Regions from separate parts of the Homo sapiens genome. Here region 1 is linked to region 2. The links come from fine-mapping of genetic effects on gene expression. A gene starts in region 2. The other region holds a variant in brackets. All regions are shown on one strand. Distances are from middle to middle.

The links. PIP is the estimated chance that this variant, and not a neighbour inherited with it, causes the effect. A credible set is the group of variants that fine-mapping cannot tell apart.
Region 1: its variant is the best candidate, but not a certain one, in a credible set for the expression of AMN1 in whole blood (TOPMed, PIP 0.81).

The regions. Positions count from the first base shown.
Region 1 is chr12:31,666,800-31,669,709 of GRCh38, reverse strand. ETFBKMT (electron transfer flavoprotein subunit beta lysine methyltransferase) reads right to left here. Exons shown (of 4, transcript NM_001135863.2): 4 at 1-2,063. The coding sequence ends at 1,720. Among named protein-coding and RNA genes, the nearest start is that of ETFBKMT, 8.6 kb to the right of the region's middle. The variant G/T (reference allele first, on the strand shown) is at 1,180.
Region 2 is chr12:31,727,459-31,730,368 of GRCh38, reverse strand. It overlaps AMN1 (antagonist of mitotic exit network 1 homolog), which reads left to right and starts at 1,348. Exons shown (of 7, transcript NM_001113402.2): 1 at 1,348-1,398. The coding sequence starts at 1,361. AMN1-AS1 (AMN1 antisense RNA 1) reads right to left here and starts at 1,104. Exons shown (of 1, transcript NR_198987.1): 1 at 1-1,104. It overlaps LOC105369722 (a long non-coding RNA gene), which reads right to left. Exons shown (of 3, transcript XR_931497.3): 3 at 1,479-1,712. RefSeq lists enhancers at 840-1,039, 435-1,067, 1,080-1,429 and a silencer at 1,480-1,559.

The DNA of each region.
Region 1 (2,910 bases), 61 kb after region 2:
TCTTTGCTCAATTAAACTTTGTTAAATTAAAACAAACAAACTCCAGGGGGCCCACTCCTAGGGGAGACACCACACTTTCATAGTTTTACCTCCAGGATACCTACCAGGTTCTCAGGGTGAGGATCAGAGAAAAATCCCCTCTTCTGGTATGAGGATAGGGAAAGTAACCATTTTGAAATATGCCCAAGTGTTCAGTTCTCCTTAACAAAAGCCAGTTCTCAAGGGAAACTATTTTACCAGAGCCTCGTTGACCTGGGGGAAAGGAAGCACCCAACTCCAGCTGCCTCTAGCCTTCCTGTCTCACCAAAGTGACAAAAGAAAAGCTGAAAGCACTTGTGAAGGTCACAGCAGGGGCACAGGCTGACTTAACTGACTGAGACTTAATCACAGGACTATAGAACATACCTTCTCCCATACCTTATCACATCAGTTAGGCTACTGTATAATAACAGGGAATTACAGGTGAAAAAAACTGCAAGCTTCAGACTCTATATAAGAAGGAATCTCTAGGGAAACTCAAAGATAACAGAGGAGACAATAGCCAGGACACTAGAGGAAAATTTAGCCTGTAATATCTACTCTACAGCAAACAGTAGCCCTACCCAGATTTTAAAACCTCATGCTACCTTAGTTTACTTGTTTATTTATGCAATACATCATGTCTAGCTATCAACAAAAAATTACAAGGCATGCTAAAAGACAAAAAAACAGTCTGAAAAGAAAACAAGCATCAGAACCAGACTCAGTTATGGCAGACATTTTAGAATTACCAGATCATAAATTTAAAATAACTGATTAACATGCAAAGGGCTCTAATGCGAAAAGCATACAACACGCAAGAATGATGGGTGACGTAAGCAGAGATAGAAGCTATAAGAAAAAATCAAAAGGAAGTGATAGAAGTAAAAAACATCGTCAGGCTGGCGTGGTGGCTCACACCTGTAATCCTAGCACTTTGGGAGGCCAAGGCGGGTGGATCACCTGAGGTCAGGAGTTTGAGACCGGCCTGGCCAACATGGCAAAACCCCGTCTCTACTAAAAATACAAAAATTAGCCAGGCATGGTGGTGCACACCTAAAATCCCAGCTACTCTGGAGGCTGAGACAGGACAATCGCTTGATTGGGGGAGGTGGAGGCTACAGTGAGCCGAGACATGAGTCACTGCACTCCAGCCTGGAC[G/T]ACAGAGCTGAGACTCCATCTCAAAAAAAAAAAAAAGCCCAGAGTTCAAGGCTGCAGTGCCCAATGATTAAGCCTCTGAATAGCCACTGCATTCCAGCCTGGGAGCAAAGTGAGACTGTCTCTAAAAAAAGAAAAAATATATATATAGTCTTCTTCTGTTTTGTTTTGTTTGTTTAATTCAAAGTTACATCACAGTTGTCCTCGACTACAGAAACAGATCCAGCTACAATGTTTAATTCTTCTCCATTACTTAAATTAAATGCTGCCACCATTGAGTATGGCATTGTATAATCATATTCCTTCAGCGGTTAAAATAGAAAAAAAAATGCAGATAGAGATGTGTATAATTGGCATGCATAGAAATACAGAACCAGTTACATGACAAAAGTAAACAAAACTCTAAACCTTCATATTTTAAAAACAAGATTTTCCATTTAACAAGAATTACATTCATTAAACTGGAGAGTATCTCCTATAGAGAAAACTTTTAGAGTCAGATCCAAACATTACTATATTCATACTTGGAAGCACTTTGACAACTCAAGGCTGAAAACCCCACACTGTGCTTGTTGTCAGTCCACTGTTTTCCTGCCTAGTAGACTCCAAAAGTGAATATTCTACCACTTTGTGCAGGTGATGCTGAATGCTGTGTCCACTGAACTGGGGCCGCCCAGGGTCACCAATCAGTACTCGAGTTCTATAGGTCCAGAAGCACTTCTTCAGCCACTGATGAAGACTATCTGCAAGGTCTTCATCATAAAACATATCGCCAAGAACAACAAGGTCCCACTTATCTTGTTCCAAATTCAAAATGTTTTGGATTAAAATAGGAAAAGGATTCAGTCTGTTCAATTCACAATTTAGTGTAATAGCCATTCCTGCAACTTAAAAAAAAAAAAAGCACAAAATGAATTGGTATATGCTAGGCTGTTATAATTCCATGTTGATTAAATAATTTAGAAGATCTGCTAACAATATATTTTTCTTCCTTTTTGATGAAAGTTGTTTTTTAAAGTAGAGAAGTATAAAGGTTATCCCAATATAAGCTATACCACAATTTCCAAATACATGACTGGATATCCTGAAAACAAACAATTCAAAACACCTAGAAATGCTGGGACTTTTAGGAATATTTGCTGATTTCATTAACCAAAAGATTTTGTTTTTTTACTGTGGACAGGGAAACGAGACTTGGGCTTGATTGAGCATGGCAATAAATTAGAACTGAGACCCCTTGGCTGGGCGCAGTGGCTCACGCCTATAATCCCAGTACTTTGGGAGGCCGAGGCGGGTGGATCACCTGAGGTCAGGAGTTCAAGACCAGCCTGGCCAACATGGTCAAACCCTGTCTCTAATAAAAATACAAAAATTAGCTGGGCATGGTGGTGCATGCCTGTAATCCCAGCTACTCGGGAGGCTGAGGCAGGAGAATCACTTGAACCCACGAGGTGGAGGTTGCAGTGAGCCAAGACCGTGCCACTGCACTCCAGCCTGGGCAATAGAGTGAGACTCTGTATCAAAAAAAAAAAAAGAAAAAAAAAGAACTGAGACTCCTTTATAAAATAAAGGTTTTCAGCCAGGCGCGGTGGCTCATGCCTGTAATCCTAGCACTTTGGGAGGCCAAGACGGGCAGATCACGAGGTCAGGAGATTGAGACCATCCTGAATAACACGGTGAAACCCCATCTCTACTAAAAATGCAAAAAAAAAAAAATTAGCCAGGCATGGTGGC
Region 2 (2,910 bases):
CTCGGCCTCCCAAAGTACTAGGATTACAGGTGTGAGCCACCGCGTCTGGCCTTGAGACAGTTCTTATCTCAGACATACAAGCATGAGTTTCCTTCCTTTCTGGTCTCTAGGCTCCAATTTGTCTGGGTCTGACAATAGTTACTTCTCCTGGAATCTGCAACTTTCAGAGCACTTTATGGAAAAAGTCGGCCAACCCCTGCCCTACACTCACTCTTGATCACTCTCCAGTGTAGCCATCCCAAACTATTTGCAGACCACCCTTTTCTCTCTGATCTGTATCCCACCCCCATGGGTGCTTCCATAGAACTAACCCCATCTAAGCATTTAACAGTTATTCTAATTGCCCTTTTACTTGTCTGACCCAAGTGTTCGCCACTCAATCCTCAGCACCCAGCACGATCCCTAGCCCTCGTTCAGCGCTTAATAAATCCATGTTGATTCAATGTGTAGCATCCTGAACAGGCAACAGCAGTGGGTTCCAACTTTCAAGGAGCTTAAAAAAGGAACTCAGCATACAAACAACAGACTAATCTACAAGGAAGAATGAGGGGGGTGGAGGGAGCACTAAAAAGCAGCAAGTACTCTGCAGCAGAACCAAAGATAAAATTCCACCTAAAGGTGCCCTTTCTTCAGGATCCTTCCTAATTTGAATACAGGTTCCCTTCTCCTCCATGACGAAATTCTTAGTGAGGTTACTTGTTGGTACGCAGTGTCCTCATCTGTAAAATAAGGCTAAATAATTACGATTTCACCGGATTATAATGAATATGGTTAAGTATTGAACTAAGGCCTAGAAAGCACGTAGCTCAGTGCACGCTTCCTAGAAAGTGCTCAGTAAACTCGGATCCTCTAACACGCTCCGTTTGATGTTAATGGAGTCCGTATCCGAGCGGGTCTCCAGTGTGCATCGCCAAGGGTATGGCCCAGCATCCAACGCATCCTTTTAGTAAGAGTAGCGACTTCTCAGCGCTCCCTTCGCCCCAGGAGAGTTCTCGGCTCGCGGCGTCGCGGCGGGGCTGCGCGCTGGGCTGAACTCCCAAGAAACCTCCTGCAGCTGAACCGGAGCAGACGCCCGCCAGGTGAAAGAACTACAACTCCCGTCACGTTGCATCCGAGTTTAGGGCCTCTTTATAGTTTATCACACCCAGCCTCTTCCGCGCAGCCCTCAGTGGCTCCGCCCCAAAGGGGGCTCTCTTCTTTCCTTGTGGAGTCCGAAGCGTGGCCACGCCCCGGTCACCGGAAAAATCCGTGTGACGTCACAAAAACCTACGCGTCGCGCGGTGGGCGGGAGTTGGCGGACGGTCCCTGGCTGGGTTCTGGAGGCCCTGGGACCGCGGAAGAGGCTTCAGACGCTGCAGCGATGCCTCGCCCACGGCGGGTCAGTCAGCTCCTGGATCTGTGAGTCTACCCTGTCCCGCCTCCCTTCGCGCCGCCCCAGCACCTCCTCCAAACGGCCAGGCCCTGCGCTGCTCTTCCTCCCCGCCCCTTTCCCACCCCCCCCGCCGACCTCTGAAGAGGCCCCGCGTGTGTTTCTGTCCCTGGGTTCCTGATCTGTCGTTTCCTGGCTGAGGACAGTTGTGCAAAGTGGGTCTCTTGGCGGGCTTGCCCCTCCAACACTCCGCTGCGCGATGAGCGTCCATTCCTCCGTCAGCCTTGACAGCTCGGCGCCCCGGCTGTTACTGGCAGTGGCCTCTCTCTTAGCAGCTAAAAGCCTTGGTAGAAAAAAACACAACGCTAGATGAGGTTCTCAAAAGCTTCTAGCAGAATTCCACCCCTGTAACTGGAATAAACATTGACAGACCCTGGGATAAAGGTAACAAAGTGGTTAAGACCACGGATCCCTGGCTGAGATTGCTGGGTTCAGCCCCCGGCTCTGCCATTCACCAGCCACGTGACCATGGACCGGTAACGTAACCTCTCCCTGTGCCTAGGTTCTTTATCTATAAAATTTTTGTGATAATAGCACCCATCACATGGAGTTGTCCTGAGGGATAAATTTAAAACATGTAAAACCCTTATAAGGATGCCCAGCAAATAATAAACACCACTAAGTGTTATTGTTATTATTATTTCCTACCAGAAATTGTACGGAAATGGAAGTTACAAGGGCAATTGCGTCTCTCCAGGAGCTTTCAGTCCGTTAATATTGCCATGTAAAAAATAGACATCTTAAGGATAAGGAGAACAATCTCCTTAATCTACTGAAGGCTTTCTGAAACAATGGCATCTGATATTTTACATTAAACTTGGGAGGCCGAGGTGGGAGAACTGCTTGAGCTCAGGAGTTCGAGACCAGCCTGGGCAACGTGGCGAAACCCCGCCTCTACTAAAGATACAAAAATTATCTGGGCACGGTGGTTCACGCCTGTAATCCCAGCACTTTGGGAGGCCGAGGCACTTGAGATCAGGAGAGTTGGAGACCAGCCTAGCCAGCACGGCAAAACCGCGGCATGTACTAAAAATACAAAAATTAGCCAGGAGTAGTAGTGGCGCCGGTAGTCCCAGCTACTCTGGAGGCTGAGGCAGGAGAATCGCCTCAACCCAGGAGGCAGAGGTTGCAGTGAGCTGAGATCGCGCCACTGCACGCCTAGGCTGCTAGGCGACAGAGCGAGACTGTCTCAAAAAAATAAAATAAATAACTATAATATATGTAGAATAATATCACAAGCGGGAGAGTAACAAACTTTTGAAATTTCTAATAAGGAAAAGAATAGGAGAAAGCTTTGTCAAGGGGGTTATTTTTGAACATTGGTAGTATCTGACGGTTGCAAATGGGAGGAAATGTATCGTAGAGAGTGAAATAAAAAGAGTAAAGGTTTGACAGGCAGGAAAGGTAGAAATATGAGAGAAGACCAGAAAGTAGCGCTCCAATGTGAATGGAAGATACAATATGAATAGCACAGTAGTGAG